Homo sapiens: one gene and its partners. The protein of the gene in region 3 purifies or fractionates together with the protein of the main gene of each other region. This does not show direct contact. Each region holds a gene or a part of one and is shown on either strand. Other genes may lie near its edges.

What was found.
Region 1: the proteins of LCP1 (region 3) and RAD23B fractionate together in Homo sapiens (co-fractionation; one large-scale study listed by BioGRID). This does not show direct contact.
Region 2: the proteins of LCP1 (region 3) and SPACA1 purify together in Homo sapiens (co-immunoprecipitation; one large-scale study listed by IntAct). This does not show direct contact.
Region 4: the proteins of LCP1 (region 3) and RASAL2 fractionate together in Homo sapiens (co-fractionation; one large-scale study listed by BioGRID). This does not show direct contact.

The regions. Positions count from the first base shown.
Region 1 is NC_000009.12:107,320,167-107,326,368, reverse strand, and holds part of RAD23B (UV excision repair protein RAD23 homolog B), read right to left. Parts: intron 4,387-6,202; coding exon 4,251-4,386; intron 2,480-4,250; coding exon 2,352-2,479; intron 1,536-2,351; coding exon 1,365-1,535; intron 1-1,364. UniProt on the Homo sapiens protein: Multiubiquitin chain receptor involved in modulation of proteasomal degradation. Binds to polyubiquitin chains.
Region 2 is NC_000006.12:88,045,335-88,052,005, forward strand, and holds the start of SPACA1 (sperm acrosome membrane-associated protein 1 precursor), read left to right. Parts: upstream 1-2,506; 5' UTR 2,507-2,571; coding exon 2,572-2,779; intron 2,780-6,671. UniProt on the Homo sapiens protein: Plays a role in acrosome formation and establishment of normal sperm morphology during spermatogenesis. Important for male fertility.
Region 3 is NC_000013.11:46,153,476-46,159,677, forward strand, and holds part of LCP1 (plastin-2), read right to left. Parts: 5' UTR 6,188-6,202; coding exon 6,124-6,187; intron 5,515-6,123; coding exon 5,351-5,514; intron 5,177-5,350; coding exon 5,047-5,176; intron 3,096-5,046; coding exon 2,963-3,095; intron 1,412-2,962; coding exon 1,330-1,411; intron 1-1,329.
Region 4 is NC_000001.11:178,442,400-178,448,601, reverse strand, and holds part of RASAL2 (ras GTPase-activating protein nGAP), read right to left. Parts: intron 5,928-6,202; coding exon 5,373-5,927; intron 3,085-5,372; coding exon 2,940-3,084; intron 1-2,939. UniProt on the Homo sapiens protein: Inhibitory regulator of the Ras-cyclic AMP pathway.

The DNA of each region.
Region 1 (6,202 bases), on a different chromosome or scaffold from region 3:
GCTGGGACTACAGGCGCCCACCATCACGCCTGGCTAATTTTTTTTGTATTTTTAGTAGAGACGGGGTTTCACCGTGTTAGCCCACACCAATTCTTAATAAATACTTCCAGACAACAGGAGAGAATAATTCCCAACTCACCCTAAGAGGCCAGTATTACCCAGACACCAAATTCAGACAAAAACATCACAAAAAAACTACAGACCAATATGACTTATGAACAGATGCAAAAATCCTCAACAAAATACAAGCAGGCTAAATCCAGCAACATATAAAAAAGATCATATGCTGTAACCAGTAAAATTTATCTCAGAAATGCAAGGTTGGTTCAACATACAAAATCAATCAATGTAATAAAGCATACTAAAGGACAAAAATCACATGATCATCTTAATAAAGAAAGAAAAAAAATTTGACAAAATCCAACACCTTTTCGTGATGAACAAACTAGTAACAGAAGAGAATTTCTTCAATCTGATAAAGGGCATCCACAAAAAACCCATAGATAATATCATACTTAGTGATGAAAGACTGAATGCTTTCCCTTAAGATCAAGAACCAGACAAGGATGTTGTTGGTTCTTGCTAGTCTAATAATATACTGGAGGCTCCAGATAGGGCAGTTAAATAAGACAAAGAAATAAAAGGTATCCATATTGGAAAAGAAGTAAAACTGTCTCCATGTGCAGATGACATGACCTTGTATATGGAAAATCCTAATGAACACATGCACAAACTACTTAATGAATAAATAACAGTTCAAGAAGGTTTTATGATAAAAGATCAATATACACAATTAAATTGTATTTTTATATAGTTAGCAATGAACAGTCTGAAAATGAAATTAAGAGAAAAATCCATTTATAACAGCATCAAAAAGAATAAAAATACTTCGAAATAATTTTAACAAAAGTATTACACAACTTCTACACTGAAAACTACAGGACACTATTGAAAGAAATTATAGAAAAACCTTATTATTAATATGTGACTTCTGAGCATTTGAAATGGGGCTAGTGTGACTAAGGAATTTTTTTTTTTTTTTTTTTTTTTTTTTTGAGACAGAGTCTCACTCTGTTGCCCAGGCTGGAGTGCAGTGGCACAATCTCGGCTCACAGCAACCTCCACCTCCCAGGTCCAAGCAATTCTCCTGCCTCAGCCTCCCAAGTAGCTGAGATTACAGGTATGTGCCACCACGCCAGCTAATTTTTGTATTTTTAGTAGAGATGGGGTTTCACCACGTTGGCCAGGCTGGTCTTGAACTCCTGACCTCAGGTGATCCACCTGCCTTGGCCTCCCAAAGTGCTGGAATTACAGGCATGAGCCCAGCCAAGAACTAATTTTTTTAAAGTTTTACTTAAACTCACCCTTTCTATAGCTTCTTTTTCCTGAGGTGTTACTTGAATGTAGTTCATATGACCACTTCCAGCTTCTGCAATTCCTCCACTGCCACCTCCACCTCCTCCTCCTTGACCACCAGCTTCTTGAACTGGTTCATTTAACATCTGAATAAAATGCTCCTGGTGTTGGCTAATTTGCTGTGGTGATATGAAGGACAGAGAAAAATAATACACTGATATTAAGTATCTGCAGGAACAGAGAAATTCTAAATATTACTAAGAGAAAAGGCTACACTTTTGCAAACGTAATTTAGTGATTCTGGATTATTCAGTCTTTGGAAGGATGTGATTTCTTATACAATAGTAAAGAAATTCAGTACTTTTGGGCAAAGTAAACAGTGAAGAAATTCAAATTCTTAAGTGCTCTGAGCCTCCTGTGCTTAAAAAAACAAAACAAACAAAAAACAAACAAAAAAAACTACTGTGGGACTATAAGAATAGAACTTATTCTTAATACTTGCATGTATTTTTTACCTTCCACACTAGTGGGCATTAAAATGCTGTATAAAATTCAAATACTTGGTGATCTGATCACTAAAGAAGCCCCACAGCTATTTTTTCTAAGAGTAAGTTGTTCCTGTTGCTTAAAAGTTCCTAAGAAAAAGGAACTGAGTAATAAGCTTGTGAAAAGTGATTTAAAGTTAGGCAGTTTCTCTGTTAAACAGCTTCCCAAATTCTTTAACATATTAATGTGTAGTGGGAATCTCCAAAAAGGAAATATAAAATGTTTCCCAAACTTACTACTATTTGGTCAACTTAATTTAACCCAACCTCCATATCCCAACTGTTTTTTTAGTACACCTATCTAGATTACAATATCTAAGTGTAGCTTGGAAGAAAACATTCACATTCTCAAATACAGAGTTGTATTTGAGGAGGGGAAGGACCGTTCATGGACTTTTTCAAATTGTGACACACTCTAAATCACTTGTGAAACTGACACTGATTAGTCACCTGAAGTAATTGAGGATTCTCTCGACCTATCTGCTGTAGTAACGCTGGAAGCAAGGAAGGATTCTGCTGAATAATTTGTCTCATCTGTTGAAACTGAGGCTGATTCCGTAAAAATTCAAGGGGATGTCCTAAAATACACATAAACATTTCTAAACAAAAGCAGTAAATACATACACAAACAGTGGTTAAATAATACATTTAGACAGCAAACACTATCAAAGAAAAAATGATTTGAGTTCTCAGATGTAATAAAATGAAGTAAATAATGATGAAATCTTCCAACTGTACCAACTTGCAAGTTTTATACGGCAAAAATTACTCCTATTAGCAAAGGCAGGGAGTGCAGAACGCTGACTGTAATATGAACCAAACTTTCCTATAATTGCCCTTGGCACTCAACGTTATAAAATAATACTAGAAACTTGTCTCCTGTGTGTGTTCTATCAAAATAAAAAGTACTAAAAGTTGTTCCTGTTGCTTAAAAGTTCCTAAGAAAAATATACACCACAACAAAAACAAAAACTCACTTACTTTATAAACAATGAAAACCCCTAAAAGAACACAATCTGAGCTTGAATTCCTAGGAATTCAAGAAACCAAAGAAGAAAAAGATATTTAAAGTCTGAGGTCAGGTTTTGCAAATCAGGAGAAACTTTAATCCAAACTTACATTAAGGAAGACTTCCGGTTATTACCATTAATTTTCAAACATTTGTGAACTACAAAAACTCGGATAAATAAGCTGTATGGCAATCTAGTACTAATATATCTAAACTCTTCAGTCTAAAATCCATTCACAATAATAAATGTTAATAATGCCAAATAAAATATAAAATACAGAACTTCTGGCTTTTTCAGGGTGCTGGTACTTGTCTGGTTATGCTATAGGAAACCAAAAATCGTACATACAGGAATTGTTTTTGAGGTTACTAATGAATAAAAGAGAATTTTTAGATGTATGTTGTAATTTCCTATTCAGGAAGACAATCATTCCAATTGAAATGACCACAGCACATGGGTTTTTTGTTCTTCCATATATAATACCAGCTTTACAGGTGAAGGCAACGAGACTTAGAGACTATGTCACCTAATAAGTGCTGAAAGGAACAGGACCCCAAATCCAAAGCAGAGCTGTGGTCATCTCTTTCCACTCCCATATGCTGAATCACAACAAACAAAGGGCCTGTCCTTGGGAGACTGTACACAAAGCACTGAGTGACCTTTGTCAACCAGAGGTGACTATCATTATCAGAGCTAGGAAATGCATGGAAGAATGGCCTTTTCAAGATCAACAGTTTAAATTACTTTATTAATATACAGAAGAACGAACGAAGGAGAACACTGCGTAATTCCTAAGCTGACCGCAGGTTCCAGGCTTTGCTCTGTAGTCAGACCTATAGCAATGTGTGGGGTATGGTCAGCACCCCAGTAAAGAGACTTCAATTCAAGCTTTGCTTTCTCCTCTAGATACAAGGTTTTAAACCTCTCACGGTTTCATTTCCTTGGCTGTATAATTACTAAAATCCTGCTGGCTTTGAAATTACATACACTTTGTAACATTTATGGAGAGAGTAAGAGACAAAGTGAGCAAACCATTCTGAATGGCATCAGAAAGTAACACTAAATACAAACTGGAAAGCATCTTTTCCTTAAAACAAATAAAACAGAATATGCCCTTCGGCAAAACTGCAACACTGATGTTTAATATCAGCAAGGATACCTTTTACATCCACTTGGGAAAGTTTCTTTTGGGCCTTTCTCAAACATTAGTGAAGAGAGAACTTAACGAATTATTCGACTGCTCTGGGAATGAACGTCATTTCTGAAGTATTTCAGGTTAAATTATTTTACACTAAAAATTCAGGGCCATTCCCTCCCCATCCAGAAGATTCCGCTTTACCTCCAGAACTTGTTGTTGTAGTTGTTGCTGTCGTAGTTGCTGCAGCTGCAGCCACTGCTGAAGACTGAGGAGCCCCAGTACTAGCTGCTTGAGGGGGGTCAACCACAGCCTGACTTTCTCTATCTCCAGGGATTCCCTGTAATAGAATTTCCAAGCTTTAAGATATCCCATCATGCAAAATTAAATATTATACAGAGTAAAAGATTTATAGTCTATTTAACATCTTGTTTGATTTTCAAAAGCATCAAACAGATGTCTGCTTCAATTAAAAGTAAAGGATTATTAAGCTGCATGGATTCAAATTAGATTAGAAATGACCTGGGTGCATTATAGAAAAACCCACATTGCTATAATAATGCAAAGCAGCACTGTCCAACAGAACTTACCATGATGATGGAAATATTCTCTGTGTTGTTCAATAAGACACCTACCAGGCACACGTAATTAGCATCAAATTTGAAAAATATTGATACATGTACCTTCTTAAAACTGAACACAACCAAAGGTTTTTGTGCTACCTATTAGTTCAGTTGACTTTTTAACTTCTTAGAAATCTTTATCAGCTGTTACTCAGTGATAAAAAGGATTGAGTTTGCAACTCTAGCTTAAGATAATCCAAAAAGAGGTTTTGATGCACACTTGACAGTTCTGAAATGACTCCTGGGGGAAAAAATATCTAATGGATACAGACCAGGTACACAGTGGCCAGGCAGGAGGATCTCCCCTACTGATCCATGGTACTGAGAAAGTGTCACTCAGAAAGTATCTCATAAATTTGAGGTACTTTTCAGTGAAGTGTTTCTTAAAGTGTCAAAGTATCTCATAAATGAGATACTTAAAGTATCTCATAAATGAGATACTTAAAGTATCTCAAAAAATGAGATAAAGTATCTCAAAAAATTTAATTTTTCAAAATTCATAAAATCGATATAAAAGAAATTGAAACCATTTAGTTTTTAGGTGATGCCTTTTGTAAGTTTATAGTACTTATCTTTTAAAGTTATTAAGAGCTTAAAACTGCATGCACTAAACTCTTTTGGGACACCTATTTTGATGCACATGATTGATAGACTTGTCATTTAAAATTTTTAAAAAGTCTTTATCAAGTTCTTATAGATTTTGAAGAGAATAAAGAACCAAGTATTACAATTGAATAAGATGATAAATGCTTCCATTCCCTAATAAACCAGAAGCCAAAAGCAACAACATATAAAGGATGAAGAGTAACACAGCAGGAAAATGGCTGCATGGATTAGATGTCACTCCAGGCATTAAAACCAATGTTTTTGAATGAGTTAACCAACGCAAACCCTTAACTCAGATGGGCAGTTATTTAAGTGCTAACAAACTACATACAAATTTAGGATCCAGGGCGTCCATCAAATTCTCTTTTATTAAACTAAAAAGTTCATCTTTATTGCTATAGATCGACCTCTATTCTCACACATTACATAGCCTCTTATATAAATGCTCAACATTTCTTCTTTCCATCCGTTCACCTTAACCTATCTCTTAACTAGTAACAGTTAAAAGCAACTTTTCCCCTTCAGTCTATGAAACAAAGAGCAAATATATAAAAAACATTTTAGTTATAAATTGTTTTTGATGAACTCATGTATCATCTATTTATTTGCATTTGATGCTCTACAGCAGTTTTAGCATTTGGTAACAATGATTCTGTATTTTTATACCTCAAAACTCCACATCTATTAGATCAAAATAACTGATACTGTTGAACTTATACAGAATTCTAAATCAGGTGTAAATGAAAGCCACTCCATAAAAGCTAATACTTTTATACAATCTGTTTAGGGTACACACTCCTCACCAAACAAATTCACAACAATTATTAATTCCACAATTCCAAACAAACTGGATAAACTGCCAGCATTTAAAGACACTACTCAAGAAGATAATGAAAAAGTGAATTTAAAAAGATAAAATAATATGCT
Region 2 (6,671 bases), on a different chromosome or scaffold from region 3:
ATCAAGCATATTAAAGCCAAAATCGATTTTATCTCACAGATAATGATTTTCACAAATATCACTGTAAAGTTTCTAATGTTATAGCAGTACTTAGAACATTGTATTAACTGAATGTGTGTGTGTGTGTGTGTATTTTTTCATGCTCGTGGCGTGTATCAGTGATTTTCATCTTCTTTTTTGGTATGTGGTCATCTCAAGCTGCCCAACGAATGTTTTCACTTGACTTCTGTTGATACCTCCAACTTAACCTTTAAACAAAATGTCTACTGACTTTCCTAATTCCCTTTATTTGCTCCCTCCCTCACTCCCTTATCCTGCTTAGGCAGCCAGTCATTCCATTTTGTTAATCCTTCCTTTGTTATTTCTCTCACATTCATTTCTCTTTTCATTTTTATGGTAATCCTTTATTTAGGCCTTGATTATCTTGTGCTTATATCACACATACACAAATTGGTCTTCCTTTTCAGAATACAAATTGGTCTTCAAGGGTAGGTAGTGCAGAGACTGGATAGAGGAATGATTTTCCCACATACCAAATGAGGCCAAGCAAGGTAAGGTCAGACCAAGATAGGTGAGCTATGTTTGGGCAGAGTGGGGCAGAGGAGTTTGGGCTCTAATCCCCACCTCTTGGAAATTGGAGATGGGGGTGGAGATGCTTAGTTCCAGGCAGGATGAGGTGGGTCAGAGGAGCATATCAGGGATCCAGGGTGGAATTCCTGCTCCTTAGTATCTGCAGGTTAGAGTAGGGTCAGTCCCTCTAGATTCTGTGCCCTGCCCTTCTGGCTAAACACTTATCTTTCATTTATTTGTGGCTAGAGAGAGTACTAGAGAGACAGTAAAAGTTTGTTGAGGACAGATATTATACTTTTTCTTATAACTTACATGCGTGACATGGTATTTTATAGGTGATTTATAATGCTGCTATTAGAGATATTAATAGTCTTTATTTCAGAGTTAAATCTTTCAGGTCCTCTTTGAGACCCATCTGGCTCCCTTTGGAGATGATTATTTGTTAGATTATTAATGTTTCCTTGAGTCAAATTACATATTTTAGAGTTTATGGGACTTCCTCTGCTAAAAAAGGATACTATCTTCAGGAAGCAATGGATCCTAAAATTGACTTTGAAACACTCAACAATTTGCCAGCAACAATACTATATATCATCTTTTTAAAGTTTGTGTTTGACGGCATAATTTTTGACTTATTTCTCTCAGGATTCAAAAAAGAAAAATTTTGACTCATTTAGCCATGAAACAAAGGCCTTTACTTCTCAAGATCAAATCTAAGTTTTCCATGTTAACGTCCCTCATAATCTTGTCAAGCGCTATATTTTAAGGTATTTTAATTGACATAAATGTTCCCGAGACTTCTCACCAATACCAATTTGAACTTTAACACTGAAGGTGTTTAGCAGTCCTTGTATTTTCAAAATTAGAAGCCTTTGCAGGAGAAAATATTCAAATACAAAATTTCAACTTCTGCTTCAAACAACCTATTTTGTTACAAATAAGTGTTTCTGAAGAACCTCTTAATACTTTTCTGTTACCCCCCTTATCTGTTAGTCTGCTGAGACTAGATATTCAAATATTCCAAAAGCCAGAGTGTATGCAAGTTCACTTTCATCTCACTTGTCATAGGAATTTAAACATTAAGCCTCAAAGTATGGCACCCTATATGTCTTTTCAAAAACAACAACAAACAACCACATTGTGACTACTAGATGAGGTAAAATTTGTAATAACAGAATCAAAAAAGTCAACCCTAACTTTTCAGCGCTTGAACTCCCAATCACCCCCACTAAAGGCTTCTTCGTTAACCTTGAATCATAAGAATCACTGATCATCGAGTAAGTAAGTGTTCGGGAGATATGACTGTGAGATCCAGCTTTGTAAATAATTTCTGGATTTTTGGGGCGAGTCATTTCATCTCTCTGATTCTTAATCTCTTCACTTAAAAATGAGGGACTTGGAGTATCAGATGATTTCTAAATTTCTTCTTACTCAAAGTCTATTATTCTGATCCCAAAGAAGAAATCGAATCCTTCTCAATACATCCCAAATTGGATATTCTGGATAAGAAATTTTGAAACCAAGTCACACGAAGAGTATGTGAGGGATAAGAAGTCTAGTTTGGGGAAGGGTAAACATTATGTACGAAAAAGAAATGTCTTAAAAGAAAGCAGGCAGGGTGAGCGAGGAGGCTGAAGAGTCGCTCCATAAACTGAGGCAGAAGGAGCAGCCGACAGCAACGCCTACCGCACCCGGAAGGCTCAAGGAGGCGCCCTGGGCAGGGAACTTCCGGTTGCGGGGAAGGGCGGCGTCCTCTCCTAGGGACTTGTCGCACGCGGCTTCTCGTCGCGTTCCGTCTTGCACGCCTCGCAGCCTAGCTCCGCGCGAGTTCCAGGCGCTCAGCACCGGAGCAGCGCCCCGGCAACCATTGAGGCGTCACGGTTCGTCACGGGATTCGGAGCCGGGCGGCTACGGGCGGGGTGTCGCAGCTCTCTTCGACGTACCTGTCCTCAGGAGCCGCGGCGGCGACTGCGCCTCGGACGGCCGTCGGGGCCGAGAACCATGAGCCCCAGGGGCACGGGCTGCTCCGCCGGGCTGCTGATGACTGTCGGCTGGCTGCTTCTGGCGGGCCTCCAGTCCGCGCGCGGGACCAACGTCACCGCTGCCGTCCAGGATGCCGGCCTGGCCCACGAAGGCGAGGGCGAGGAGGAGACCGAAAACAACGACAGCGAGACCGCGGAGAACTACGCTCCGCCTGAAACCGAGGATGGTGAGGGCGGGAGCTCCCTTGCGGGGCACGCGGAGGCCCCTGTTGACGGAGCAAAGGCCTGCTCTTTGCCTGAGAACCATAATTATGTGTGTTAACGTCAGGAGAGCTCTCTCTCATACTTCAGCCCCGAGTTTGTCCCTTTCTTGCATCCTGTGGCCTTGAAGAAGAATGTGCTCATTCTCCCAGGCCACAGCAAGATACACAGATAAGCACGTATATAGAAATTGCTATAGAAACACTTCTAAATATTGCTTTGGACAAGGAAAAAGATTTTTTTTCAGGGTGGGAGGTAGCCTTCCAACAAGAGGAATCATTTTGACTCCTCTTGCAGTCACTTTCCCTTCTCATAGTAGATTTTTTTTTTCAAGTTCCAAGTTGCTTGATTTCCACATTTGCACTTGGGGTTGCAATGGAATTCAGAATCCCCCTTTACGACGATACACCCAGATAGACCAGTATGCCGACAAAACTGCCCAGAAGCCCCATGGCAGCTTCCTGCAGCTCCTAGCCTTGAGCACCTCTGCATTGTGGTGTTTGATTGGTATGTGCGGCCTCGGACAAAGGAATGGAGCAGTAGAAAACACCTGTCAAGGGATCCAGCTAGTGGCTTTGTTAGATGCTACATATTAACCAAGGAACAATGAGCCCCCCGCTTGGTACATACATTTGCTTTTTTTTCTGCTGGCTCATTAAGCAATAAAACTTGACAGGCTGTTGTACATGTCATATTGATTAGTAACTCACATTCTAGCAGGTAGAAGGTCAGCAGCAGGTTTGCTGCCTTCTCAAGAAAGATTATTCCTTTCCCTTCTAAATGACCCAGCTGCAATTCTTTTAATATTGTTTGCATTCTCATATCTCTTCAGTCTATACATATCGAGTGACTGCTGTGTCTACCAGCCTTTCTTTCATTTCCTGATAGTGATCCTCAGCACCAACAGAAAGAAATGAACTGTCTGAGGTTAACAGTGGGATCGAGGTTTGCACGGCCTTGTAACATTATACTACAGAGAGCTTAAAAAGATCCTTGACTTCGGAAATGTGAAAAAGAAAGATGACTAGGAAAGAAGAGAACACGTCCTAAAGCATAGTAGCTATTGCTTCATTCTCTTCTTTAAAGTAATTGAATTAACAATTTTAGTATTAAACTGGCCAAGAAATACTTCTAGCTATAAAATGCTAAATATTATTTAGGCTAAACTCAGGCAATAAAGTTATAATGTCTTACCTTCAAATTAAAATGTAGGTTAGTTACTTATTCTCTGAGTCACAGTTTCCTCATCTACGGACTTCAAGGAATCCATGTACTTTGTGGGATTTTAATACATACTATTTCATGCATAAGTGCTTTTTCTTGGGGAGCGAGAGAATCCAAAACTTTAAACAATCTGAGGTGTTATAGGTCTGAAAATTTCCAGAACCATTATTGAAATTTGCACTGTCCCCTTAACCCTCAGTGGATCAGTAGAAACAGTTATCCCCATTTACTATCCAGTGGACCTTTAATTTTTTTTTAGTCATTTAAAAATAATTTACAAATAAGAATAAAGGGATAGTGAAAACAACTGTGTTAGAAATTTCAAGAAGAATTTAAACATGGAAAAATTCAAATTTTTATTCCATATATCCTAGTTTTGAAGGTGTATGTACTCTAACTGGGCAAAGTACTTTGAATGCAACTAAGTGCTCAACTGTTAAGCATGAACCTGGAATGCATTCATCATGTTAATACTGATTCCAGATTTTGAGTGCATCGTTAATAAATTCTAGCTTATCATTAATCTTGGTTCTTTTTGCACTTGTATTGTCAAAAAAACCAACACTTTTGAAAACTACAAAGGCATATATTTTGTTGAAGAGAAAGCCATCTTCTTTTCTTCATAATTGGAAAATATTTTCATCTTTAGATTTATAAACACCAATTAGAATGATTGGTCCAATGAATTTTACTCATTTCTACATAATCTTTTCTTTCAGTCACCTTTATATACATATCTTTCATCACAATATGTTCATTTACAAACCTTGGCAAATAAATGTTGGTGCATAAACGTTATAAAAAGGGAAAGAATACCGTCCTCATCCTTTTAGCGAAACAGTATGGCACAAGTTATTGTCACAGTATATTTCAGGATTAAATCTTTCCTGTTGTCAGGCTAACTACATGATAATACCATATATTCTTTTCATCCCCAGAAATATAATGTTTACTCATCAATTCTTAAGTTAGAGAAAATTCATCTAGTATATTCATCCAAGATAATCATCATCTCTCATTGAGATTTTGCTTATACAATCAATTTCATCATCATCATTAGCATCCAAAGTGCTGTTATCTGTCTCTTTTCATCTTCTGATTCGTTCAATAATTGTGAAATGTTTTTCTCTGTCAGTTTTCTTCTCTTTGCCATTATGGGCAAAAAATGAAAAATTGTGAAATCTCAACTGTGTTCAATAAAAGCCAAAAATAGACTACAAGGAGGATACCTCTAGACTTCTTTTGTATCTTCTTGAAAGATGATGCAATATCTTGGGCAAAGCAATATGAAAACATGGGATGTTGTAAAATAGCTTGTGTTAGTGTAATTCTTTCACCATTACATTATTTTTCTAGGCAATTCCAATCATTCTTTCATTTTTAAATTTTAGTCATTTAAAAATGTAGTTGAAAATAATGAGCAATACCATCATTATGGATGATGAAATATCACAATGTTTCAAGATAAAGAAAAATCATTAAGATATTAGATTTATGGCCAGGGGCGGTGGCTCACGCCTGTAATCCCAGTGCTTCGGAAGGCCGAGGTGGGCAGATCACAAGGTGGAGATCGAGAGCATCCTGGCTAACACGGTGAAACCCCATCTCTACTAAAAATACAAAAAATTAGCCGGGCGTGGTTGCGTGTGCCTGTAGTTCCAGCTACTCAGGAGGCTGAGGCAGGAGAATGGCGTGAACCCAGGAGGTGGAGCTTGCAGTGAGCCGAGATTACGCCACTGCACTCCAGCCTGGGCAACAGAGCGAGACTCTGTCTTAAAAAAAAAAAAAGATAATAGATTTATATCCTTATACTTTTGTTATACCTTGTATACCATGTAATATACCTTTTAAATATATCTTTTATACAAGTATACCCTTAGATTTATAAAAAGGGGCCAATAGACCTACATAGTAATTGCAAAATAGAAAGTTGTAGTCTATACAATGGGTTTTATCCTATACAAATATAACTATATGTTATTTTTGTCTTGGAATACTTCTAAGGAAGAACAGAAGTCATAAAATATCAGCCTTTCAAATCAACTGTCAGAAACTGAAAAACTCAAATTGCACTCTGATGATATATACCAAAAGTTACCATGTGCTGTCCTGAACTGAAGAGAACATTTCAGGATCTGGCCACAACTAAAAGAGCAAGATCATTTTCCTTATCACTGTGGATGCCAGGCTTTTGTTAGTGTAGTCTAAGACCCAGTAGATTTTTAGGGAAGCCTCTGCACATCTTTGATTCCTATTGAATTCACTATTGAACTCTCCATTCGTTTTTAACTGTCCTATCAAATTAAGACCACCCATAAAATAGTTTTGGACAGTTGGCTTTTTAGCTGTATGTGAAGGACTTTTTATTCCTACAAGGTTTCATTTTGTTAGATTTGCCCATTATTTCACCCTGTCATCTTTTAGATCCAGATGTATCATCAAATATATTTGCTATCCTTTCTAGCTTTGCAGAATTCTGGATTCAGTCAGCATGATAACAGCATCTTTTTCCAGGTCATTAATAAAAATGTTGAACAGGACAGAGCCCTGTGACACATCACTCCTACCATGTTGACACCAACTGGTTAATTAACAACTGTGGTCTTAGAGTTTAAACAGTTTCACATAAAACTA
Region 3 (6,202 bases):
GGATCACCTAAGGTCAGGAGTTTGAGACCAGCCTGACCAACATGGTGAAACCCCATCTCTACTAAAAATACAAAAATTAGCTGGGCATGGTGGCAGGTGCCTGTAATCCCAGCCACTCGGGAGGCTGAGGCAGGAGAATCTCTTGAACCCAGGAGGCAGAGGTTGCGGTGAGCTGAGATCATGCCATCACACTCCAGCCTGGGCGACAAGAGTGAAACTCCATCTCAAAAAAAAAAAAAAAGAAAACGAAAATGAAAAATAGATACGATTAAAATTCCTGGAAAAGATGGAATGGTTTTTGCTAGGTTGATTTGTTGAGTATCTGTAATAACTAGGGAACCTGAGTATACACACACATACTCATAGATTCTATGTTCTTATGAGTAACAACAATGCAGGTAATGTAACTCACATATAGTCGAGATAGAGTCAAGGGAGTTTTCAGTCCAGACTCTGTATGTACTATTCTTGAGTTTAAAAAGGAAGAGATATCAATGTCAGAGATGTATAGAAATTGTTTTAATTGGCAAATTAAAAACAAAGCAAAGGCCGCCAGTGAATTAGGAAAAGAACTATCAGAAGAAAAGTGGGTCCTTGTTCTAGTGCTTAAATGATGAGTGAAAAATACTGTTTCTATATATGGTCAAGATTATGAGTAAATTTAACATTAAGTGCATTCATATGTGTTTAATCATTGTTCTCAATTTGGTTACCATTTCCATTTTTAAAGTACACAAGGTTGCTTAAATCCACACAGGAGATAATGTATCGTTCATGATTTAAGAAGTTAGATATGGTTTCTTAGCAAAAGAATTATGATAATGTTAAAATATTGGAACACAACACAGAAATACACTTACTGCTGGTTACTATTCCAGTTAATCAACAAATTGATGGAATAAAAGCAAGTTATATTTATTATACTCGTGGCTGTGGCCAAAATTACTATGAAGGCTGCCAGAGTACTTCCCGTTTTTCACCCCCTCGCTTCTTAGAAAGGCTTATGTTTTCATCTAAAATGCTGTTTATTTGGCATCAAATCAAAGATAAATTGCTAAGGAAAGCTTGAGTTAAAACTTTAGCCAAAGTGAATTTTATTCCTAAGTGGCCAAAACAAACATACAAAGCCCCAGCTGCTACCACTCCACCAGTCTCCCTTCTTTGCTGCTCAGAAATGTATCCCTTTATCCCTGAAGTATGACAAGTCACCAGCCCAAAGCCTGGGTTTTGCGAATGATGTCTGAGCCCCTGAAAAAGGCGGACTCAGCAGTTATGATGCTCATTGATGCCAAACAAATCCTGTATTATGGTAACGGTGGGAAGACATACCTGAATGGTGAAAGGGGTTAGCTTCTTTTTGTTGATTGTTCTTTCATCAATTGTGTCTGGCACTGACAGGTTGATCATTTTACTGAAAGAGAAACAATTAAATTAAAGAAAGCAGTCTTCTGAATAACAGAGCCCAGTAACGTTGAATTTAAATTCTAGCAATACCATAATCAAAGAAGATAGCAACAGAATCTGTGATGTTTAGATATAAAATCAGTTATGCCGTTTGACTAGACTCAAACTATCTGCGGGAAAGGTGAATACTACTGAAGCCACATTCATATATTGAGGTTGGAAATGAGGACCCCACTTCATTCTCCCACCTAAACAGCTGCAAAATTATCCTGATTTTCTTAGCACATTAGGAAATTCTGGGTGGATAACCAAAGTAATTCTACCATAAGTACTTTATTTTCTTAGCCATGAAAATTGTCCCCATTATATAAAAGACTGTCTACAAAATTCTGAGCTTATTATTGTCTACATTTCTATTTGACACAGGACCAAACTTTGTATCTTCAGCTAATCATATGATAACATTTTTATATCCTTCTCAGTGCCCTAGGCTGAGTACCAATGAGTCACAGGGGTCTTAGAAGGTAAAACTAGCAGATTGGGGGAAGACCATGGGGTGCCTTGGGTGGCAACCTAAAAGCTAGAATTTTGATTTTTTTATAGCAATTGAACCTTTTAAAAATGAATTCTCAGGACAAACTAATAAATAAAATATCAAAAGTAGAATTGCTCTGGTCAGAGCAGAGGAGAAAGCTCAATGTCTTTCCCACCCATTGTTATCCTTTAAGTCCTGAGTCCCTCACATATTGAGCACCTCAAGTCACTTCACTTACAACTTGGCCTGTGATGACAGAGAACCTGCTGAAGCAAGAGCTACAGAGGTATTTTCAAAGACACCACGTTGCATTGAGCAGCACCATATTTAGAGGCCTCCCGTGGGTAGGATGCAGTCCCCCTTTTCCAGGTGTCCTCAATGTTTGAGTTGTGGATTTCTGTGCATCACTCAAAGGTTTCTTTGCTTAAGGACTACAGTTTAAGGACTTCTTCCATCATCCTGCTGCTATTATCAATTCTATCTGCTTTCATGGTGAGCCACGCTCAGATGAAGCCAAGCAGCATATATTCCAAAAATATATAACCAGGAAAATTGTCCTCATTATAGAAGAGACTATCTATGTACTTCTGAGCTTACATAATGTCTACATTTCCGCTTGATGCCTGATCCAACTTTATACTTTAAACTTGTCATCAGATAAACTTTTTAATGTCCTTCTATAGTCATTATTTAATCAGTATTTTATAAGTTTCCCCCACTTAATTATCTAATACATTGATTAGACATCTAATGCTTTTGACTTGGTATAACTATATCTTCCATGTTTATCTCTATAATGTTTATCCCTCCTCTCCACTCAAGCAATAGCAATTTTACATTTCTCATTATAAATTGTTTTTGAATTTAGTTTGCTGTCCTGGACCTGGCCAAGTGAAAGTCCAGAAAAGCCTTCTAGGTGCAGCTGAGCACCAAACAAAGTTGGCCTACGATAAATAACGATTAATTGTTGATGGTCTAGAAAATGGGCAATTCTTTGGAAACCAAGAAAGAAGTATTATTTACCAAAGGACAATGCCATCTCCAACAGCATTAAAGAGATCATTCGTGTTTGGGTTCATTGGGATGACATGCCGACAATCAGGATCATTTTCCAGGGCTTTGTTTATCCAGTTGACAAAGGCATACTTTTCTTCCTCTGCAAGTAAATGATTAAAGTGACTCATTTGCAAAGTGAAACTCTATTATAAACAAAATTATGCATGTGGATCTTAAATTCTCATTCCCAGCAGAGAGATGTGAGTTTATTCAGTCCATTATCTTATCATCTCATATTTATTAAGATTTAAAAATCTCAGATCACTTGGGAAATAGGCATTGAGTCTGTGTACTCCAAGTCATAAAACATAGAGCAAACAGATTTAAAAACTATCTCTCTGTTTCTTTTCTTTTCTTTTTTTTTTTTTTGAGATGGAGTCTCACAGTGTCACCCAGGCTGGAGTGCAGTGGCGCGATCTCGGCTCACTGCAAGCTCTGCCTCCTGGTTCACGCCATTCTCCTGCCTCAGCCTCCCCCGTAGCTGGGACTACAGGCGCCCGCCACAACACCCAGCTAATTTTTTGTATTTTTAGTAGAGACGGGGTTTCATCGTGTTAGCCAGGATGGTCTCGATTTCCTGACCTCGTGATCTGCCCACCTCAGCCTCCCAAAGTGCTGGGATTGCAGGTGTGAGCCACCGCGCCCGGCCAAAACTATCTCTCTGTTCCTATATATACGCATAATCCAGATATATATTTACATTTAGAAGCAAATATATACATATGTTTATTTTCTATATATAAATACATAAATAATAAAAATATTTTATTTATATGTGCATGTATACATATATATATACACATATAAATACAAATGTGGTATAATGCTTACAGGACAAAACTCAGGATTCCGCTTTTAGCTCTGCTGGTTTAAATGTTGGATCACTGTGGACAATCCTTATTGTACCTCTGAGTTTCTTGATACAATTATAATTAAATTGCTATAAAATAAAATCATTTGGATATAATCTTTTTTTCCTAACAGTAAAGCTGCCAGAAGGTGATTTTTAGATGTTTTAATAAAAACTCAAGTTATGTCTTCACAGCCTAGCACTATGTTTCCCAAACTGACAGTTTTTGAAAACAGTAGTGTCCCTCAGAGAAATCCTGAGTCATAAAAGTTTGGGAAATACTGTGTAGTGAATGTATCTCCGCCTTAAAGATTCACATTGCACATTTGACCCAGCAAAGGTTCTGAAAATTCCTGTATTTAAAAACAAAAGGCCAAACGTTGTCTTAGCAACTATAGATGGTATTTAATCATGACTTATCTTTTTTTTTTTTTTTTTTTTTTTTGAGACAGAGTCTTGTTCTGTCGCCAGGCTGGAGTGCAATGGTGCAATCTCGGCTCACTGCAACCTCTGCCTCCTGGGCTCAAGCGATTCTCCTGTCTCAGCTTCCCGAGTCGATGAGATTACAGGCATGCGCCACTGCACCCAGTAGAACGGGGTTTCACCATGTTGCCCAGGCTAGTCTTTAACTCCTGACCTCAGGTGATCCACCCGCCTTGGCCTCCCAAAGTGCTGGGATTACACGCGTGAGCCACTGTGCCCGGCCTCATGAGTTTATCTTTAAGATCAACTAACGTTTTGAATAATTCAGTTTTGGAAATGTTGCAACAACTATACTGTTTGGCCTGTTGGAAGTTTCCATTATGGCTGTTGGATGGCAGCCTTCGGAATAAATTTACAAATTTATTCCAAATCAATGAAAACATAATTTTTTGATCACTTAGCAGGTGTTAAAAATTATCATGAAGTTTAAAGATAGAAGCTTGAGTAGCTAATTTTGTCCATAAGATTTAGAAAGGAATCTGGGCAGCCTTTAATGATTGTTTAAATGCTGATCAAATCATTTTGTATTGGACCCTACCCAGAGCTAGGACTGCTCCTATATTATGTACCCAGAACTGACCCACTTAGTCACAGGAAAATTGGGAGTCATCCATAAAGCTGTGTTTGCTTCTGTCTTTGTTTACATCCCTTAGGTTTGAATACCAAGTTTAGAATCTGTAATCCTGAAATCCTGCTCCAACCCAGGAGTTGAGCCTACCTGAATAGGAGTGTTGGGTGCCAACGCTAGACTGCTCTGAAGTACCACCGATTGCACAAATCCCTTCCTTCTTATTGATTGCTTTTCTAAAGGTCTTGGCAACATCTGTGCTTTTTAGGCCATGGAAAATCTGCAAAAATATAATGTATCTTTAGAAACTCAAGCAGTGATCAAGAAAATCACAAAGGAAAGAATATGTAATGTCGAAGCAAGGAGGTAAGGAATGTCTTTCTGGATATTTTTTAAAACAGAATTCAAGTTCCAAGTTTCAAATGTGTCTCCTTGTATTCTGCATGGTACTCACCTTGATAAACTCATCAAAGCTGATCCTTCCATCTTGGTCCAGATCACCTGTAGCCATCAGGTTTTCTGTAATTTCTCGTACTCTATACCCAGGCAAAGGCAAGCAAGCAGCCTTGAACAAGTCATTCAACTCATTGAAGCTGATGTATCCATTGCCATCAGTATCTGTAATGTACACAATATACTGAAGCTTCAGGACGATTCAGGCAACAGCTTTTAGAGAGGTGAGGGAAGACTAGATGGAAGGTGAAGGGACGAGAGAGGCTATCATTCAGACATTAAGGCATGATCCCAGGGAAGAGTCAGAATCTCACAAGATGACTGTTGCTACTGAATAGGGGCACCAGCATTACTTTCAACATCCACAGTAAAAGAGTCATAATTTCTATAAGGTACCTCTGTTTCCACAAAGAACTCTTATAGAAACTCTTAAGGAAACCACAGGTTTAGTGATAAAGAGTAAGAGAAAGTATGTGATGGTATTAAAATCAAGGAAACAGCAAAACAGAAGACAAGATATAAAAGATGAGACTTACAAACCATTTCCAGGAACAAACTATGTAAGAGTAGAGTCCATATTCCATGTTTTGATAGAGAAAGTCATTTTATTGAAGCATATTTTTCAAAAATAAGTTCTCCCAGCTCCTCTAAACAAATACTACTGGTTTCTTGTCATCTCTGAAATTTTGCTCATGTTCCCATTTCATTGAATCTACCCTGAAGCTACTCAGTGAAGAAGAGAATGATGCAATTTGGGGTACCAGGTCTACTCACCAACTTTGGCAAAAGCTTCTCTGAGCTCCATCATTTCCTCATCGGACACTGATCCTCTGGCCATTTTTTATTGCTTTAG
Region 4 (6,202 bases), on a different chromosome or scaffold from region 3:
GCTGTAATAAGCTCTTTATGTAAATGACACTATAAACCTCTTTGTACTTTTCTTAAGCTCTTTGTACCATTCTTAATGTCTATATGATTAGAGAAAAAAATATGAAGATAAGCAGGAAGACAAAAAATCTGCTTCAGAGCAGAAACTAATTGTAGTAGCTACTATAATGTGTCTGCTTCATGTAAACACAGTGATCCTGTTTCTTGAATGGCGACTCACTCTATTCCTTACAGCCTGCCTCCTTTCCTCCTGAAACCAGTGTGAGCCATCACTAGTGATATTTAAGGTGCCAAATGCAATATCCATTCTTTTTCTTTACCTTCCATAATTTCTGACTCTACTGATGCTCTCTTCTCTATTGGTATCTAGGACTCAGTATTTTCCTGGTTTTCTTTCTTTTTTGGATGCTCTCTCTTTCTCTGATCACTTCTCTGATTCCTCTTCTTCATTCTATACCATAAACCCAGGTGCACTCTAAGATCTATCCTTGGCCCTGTTCTCTTCCTGCTCTGGTAATCTTACAGCTTCATTTAACCTCTCCACAAGCATAAATTAGTCTCAAATTTCCAACAGCCAGCTAGACAGGTATCTTAGATTGCCTATCTAAAACCCCTGAGATTTCCTACTAGAACTTCAAATTGAATATATATGTAATTTCCACTGTTTCACACCTACTACTTCTGTGGTTTCTATTCCTGTTAAGAATCTCATCATCCCCCTAGTCACTCACAACACCCCACAATTCTCTGTAATATTCGTTCCCTCCTTGCTTCCCACAAACTGAAAAATTTGCCAAGTTCTATCAGTTCAACCTTAATATTTCTCATATCCGTCTTCCTCTCTATTCTTACTTGCATGATTACAGTCATTCAGAGTCTCATTCTTTCTTATTACAATGGCTTTTTTTTTTTTTTTTTTTTTTTTTTTTAAGAGAAGGAGTTTTGCTCTTGTCTCCCAGGCTGGAGTGCAATGGTATAATCTTGGCTTACCGCAACTTCCACCTCTCTGGTTCAAGCAATTCTCCTGCCTCAGCCTCCTTAGCTGGGATTACAGGTGCCCGCCACCATGCCTGGCTAATTTTTGTATTTTTAGTAGAGATGGGGTTTCAGCATGTTGGCCAGGCTGGTCTCGAACTCCTGACCTTGGGTGGTGGGCCTGCCTCGGCCTCCTAAAGTGTTGGGATTACAAGTGTGAGCCACCGCGCCCAGCCTACAATGGCTTCTTAATTGATTGGCTTTCAGTAGGCTTTCTTCACCTTTATTTATTTATTTATTTTTTTTAAGACAAGGTCTTTCTCTGTCACCCAGGCTGGAGTGCAGTGATGTGACCATAGCTCACTGCTGCCTCGAACTCCTGGGCTCAAGCAGTTCTCTTACCTTGGCCTCCTGAGTAGCTGGAACTATAGATGTGAGCCACCATGCCTGGATACAACTCGTCTTAATCAGTCTGCTAAGTTAATTCCACTGAAAACACCTGCTCAAAACTTTCAGTGGCTCTCCAGTTATTACTGTAAACTTTAAATCTTCACCCAGGCATTTGAGGTTTTCACAAATTAGTTCTAATTATTGTTTAATCTTTTTGTTGTTGTTGTTCACATGTTTCTTTCATGTCTTTTTCCAGCTAAATAGTTTTATTCCACACATTCCTGGTTCTGTCCCACCTCTATGTCTTTTTGTTTATGGGTCCTTTCCCCCATGCTACTTCTTATCTTATCTGCTCTTGCTCAATGTCTGTTTTTAACCTTTCTATTCATCAAACTACATACAAAACATAAATGTATTTCACACAGAAAGTTTGACAATTCTATCAGCTGGATTCAATTTTTTTAAAATTATTTGAAAGAACACAGAATGTCTCTTTTTGGTATAGAGATATCCCTAATGTTATATCCTTACATTGCAAACTTCTCGAGGGTAAAAATCTCTCCAATCATTCAACATGTTTTTACTTTCTATTCTTGATAGTCACACGTGGCTGTTGAGCATTAGAAATGGCTTGTGCAAATTAAAATGTGTGATACATGTGAAATACACACTGATTTTCAAAAAGAATAAAAAAGTAAAACACCTAATTAATAACTTTTATTCTTCTAAACCATTAAATAGTATTTGGATATACTGGGTCAAATGAAATATGTTATCAATTTCACCTGTTTCTCTTCATCCTTTTTAATACTGTGACTACTAGAAAATTTACAATTACTCAAAAAATAAAAATAAATAAAAGTATTCACACATGGGTCATATTTCTATCGGACAGTGCTGCTCAACAGTGTGTGCAGGTAGTGGGGATATGGAGGTAAAACAAAGGGCTATTTCCTTCAAGGAACTCACATCTGCTCTATCATGATGTATATTAAAGTGACCAGCACAGTACCTTACTCTAGCGGTTAATGCCTCAATTTCATGACCAAATCTGGAACTGCAAGTGCGTAGCCTAGTCAGCAAGAACTACTGATTGGACAAAAATTAGTTATGTTAAAAATTCTAGAGAAAGGCAGAAATTTGTGGGGGAGTTGTGGGAAGTGGCAAGAGTTTCTTCACTTTTGATTAGAGTTTTGCATGCATGATAACAAATGTCAGGGTAACACTCTCAAGACTAGGTAATAATATCATCATATAAACACCCAAAACTTTGGGCAAAACAGACCACCTCAGATCTATCAGTGGACACTGCTGATATTACTGTGCATCCTGGAATCATGAAGCTGGGGACCTGGGGTAGCAGTGTATGCTGACAAGGTTTCTGTTTCTACATTTATTATTATTTCTCTACTGGTGAGTACTGCAGACTTCTTACAGCCATGATTCAAACCTTAACACCTGAGTCAGCTAGAACTAAATAACATGCAGAATTTGAGCTCAATTCGTCTCATGGGGGTGAAATAGCTTAAAACTGAAAAGTAAATAAAAGAAAATAGATGTTTTTCTCTTTCATACCCAGTGCGTCATGAAGATACTGTTGTCCCACCAACTTGAGGTATTCCTCAATGGATTTGGTGGCAATAGTGTTCTCTCTGAAGATCAAGACATCATGCTCTCCACAACGATCCACCTCAGACATCACCAAGTCAGTCAGAAAATCCTGGTAGAATAATGTTCAATCAGGCAGAAAGCAACTGAATAAATAATACACATTAGAAGAGACTTTTGAAATATCAGACATCCTGGAAATGCTGCTTTAAAACTAAAGCTATCAGATTCATCTGAAAGGAAAAAAAGCAATCAGGATAAAATGTTAGGTGTTCCTACCCCTACATTTAAAATTCCCTCAAAGATTTTCCATTGCACTTTTGATAAAGGCCATAATTCTGAATGCAGTCTACAAGTCCCTATATTTTCTGGTTTCTGTCTACCTTTCAAGCCTTGTACCTTTTCTTTTTAGGTCCTTTAATACACCAAGCCCTTTCTAACACACACAATGTTCTCTATTCACCACAAAGCCTTTTTTTTTTTTTTTCCAAATACTGTTCTCAGTTCTGCTCTGCTCCCACCCTTGCTTCCACTCCCACTGTCAGGTAGCTCATTCCTGGGATCCTTTGGATTTTAGTTCACACATCATTTCCTCAGTGAAGGTGTCCCTGACCAACATTGCCCCTGAACTCCATTAGTCAGCTCCCCTTGCTCCATTTCATAGTATCATCTCTCTTTTTATCCTCTGTAGTTCTCACTGTAATCATATTTATTTCTGTAATTACTTGATTAATATTTATTTTCCCCAGAAAACCAGTTTCTGTTTTTGTTTACCACCATATCTCCAGCACCTAACAGTTTCTGGCATATATTAGGTGTTCAATATATAATACTTACAAATCGGTCCACAGTGTCAATGTAGAATCTACTGAACTCATCACTTGAAGTCATTGTCTAGGCTATCTTTCTGTCTGCCCGCCCACCCATCCATCCGTCCATCCATCCATCAATCCAGAAGGATAGCATAAGGGGAAATAAAGGTGCAAAGAAACAGCTGCTTCATTCCTCAACAGTCTTAAAGAACTTCTAGTAAAGCTCAATGTTGGTTGTTCAGTTTGAATGTGATAACATCATATATTTTGAATGCTATATAATTATTGGATATTTCAAGGGCTGCAAATGCCAAAATAGGAGGAATATGCTGATTTACTTTTACTTTAAAATTAAGCATTTTAAACATCAATGGGACTTACTCTGGGGCAGCTTAACAGTATAACAGAGTTGTAGACTTAGGAATCACTATTAAACTTAATGCTAAGAGACAGGAGGAAACTCTTGGGGGTAACGGTAACATTCTGTATCTTGATCATAGTGGTGGTTTCGATGGGTGCAAAATCGGTCAAAGCTTACTGAACTTTTCCACTTTAAATGGGTGTTTATTCTACCTAAAATGTACGTAAATCAGTATTAAGTCATTTAAAAAAGTCTTAATGTATATTCTGAACCTTGAGCAACTGAAAAGTAGAAATATATCCATACAATTCAAAATTTCAGTGACACCTCGCTCCAAACTCATAAGCTTTTTAATGACAGAATGCCCAAGATTATCATAAGTAAATTTAAACACAAAAGTTATAATCCATAGAAGCCAGATAAGAGACTAAATATTGAATATATTGATATATTCCGACATATCAAGAAATAGTAATAGTACTTTGTTTGGTTCTAAATACATTATTCTAGCTGTGAGTTTCTTTGGATCTGAGATGTAATTTTATCATGACCAGTTTGCATACAGTATAACGGTAACTCTTCCTAGTTAATATCCTTCATAGGTCAAAGACTCTCTCAACTAGTTTTTGTTCTTCCCACAACCAGCATATTTCTCCTTTAAATAAAAAATATTCCTGAGTTTTTACTTCTATCCAAGGTGAAATAAGTGTATCATGAAACAGCTACCAATTGTATCATATCCCTTGGATTTTTATTCTAAATATAGATTTTAATCCCACAAAGACTCTTGCTAATACTCAATATGCTTCTGGAATACTTCCTTCTGTGCCTAGAGGATACAGTCATCAGTTAAACTTAAATAAAATACAGTGAGGAAGAAAACCACCATACAACACTCTAGAACTAAATTAAAGATAAGGAACCTTGAACATGCTGTAGGGTTATCGTGCCAATCCTACCATTTATTTTGTCAGACAAGAAAGAGCTGGCTGTGTTATCTATGTTTCATGCAAATTGGCTTTAAATATTTGCTGGTCTCTCCATTTTACTTGTTTAGTTTTATAATCTTCATCTTTTCTGGATCTAATAGGTTTTCTTCTTAATTCTTCTTGTTTTGACCAATAGTAAAGCACATTTCTCTAATTTGGATTTCTACAATATCCATATCTTGGTTTATGAAAGGTAGGGAAGAGACTTCAGGTACTGCAATCCCCCTTTTCCACTTACCTTGGCTCTGCCAGTACTTTGAAGAATGTGCACTAAGGCACAAGCCAACTCCTCTTTATTTCTCACACTAATTACTGGCTCAAGGACAGAACACAGCATGGTGTAGTTGCTGGTGACAAATTCTGCAAATTCTTTGTATTGCTCCATAGGCAGAATGGTGATAGTTTGGAAACGTGATTTAATCCGAATAGAAGGTCCTCCTGTCTTTCCTTTGTTGGGTGTAGGTGTACTCACTGGATACCACTTTTCTACAAATTGGCGACCAGTCACACTGGCAGTGGGGATGTTGACTAGCCCTACATAATTATTCTTGTCCTTTTTTTTCTTTTTTTCCACATCCTTGTAAATGTGAACTGTGATACTATGAAGAGGTGGAAGGCTGAAGAATTCAAAATGTTCGCCCCAGAAAATATTGTCTGCTTTGGTCTTGCTGGTTGTACGAGCAAAGAGGGTATCATCAAGGCACAGTTCGCAGAAATATTTCTTTTTAGGGGCAAGGTCCTTGGCTTCAATGATCCATAAACGAAGAACATTTTCAGCTCGCCTGCAATTGTCCTATAAAGAGGCAACAAAGCTGAATTTCAGAGCTGACATTGCAGAAAAAAAAACATTTTTTTCTTAAGTTGGCAATGTTCATTAGGTACTCTATTAAGGGGAGTCAACAAATAATGAAAGGGATTGCTATCTCATTGCTTAGGTTAACAGCAAGCTCTAAACAAGCATGCATTAGAATCTTGAAGAATTATATATAGTTCATTATATATATTATATATAGTTCATTCTATTTTATTTACTTGGGTTAAGAAAATATCATTTTGTAACGGTAAGTT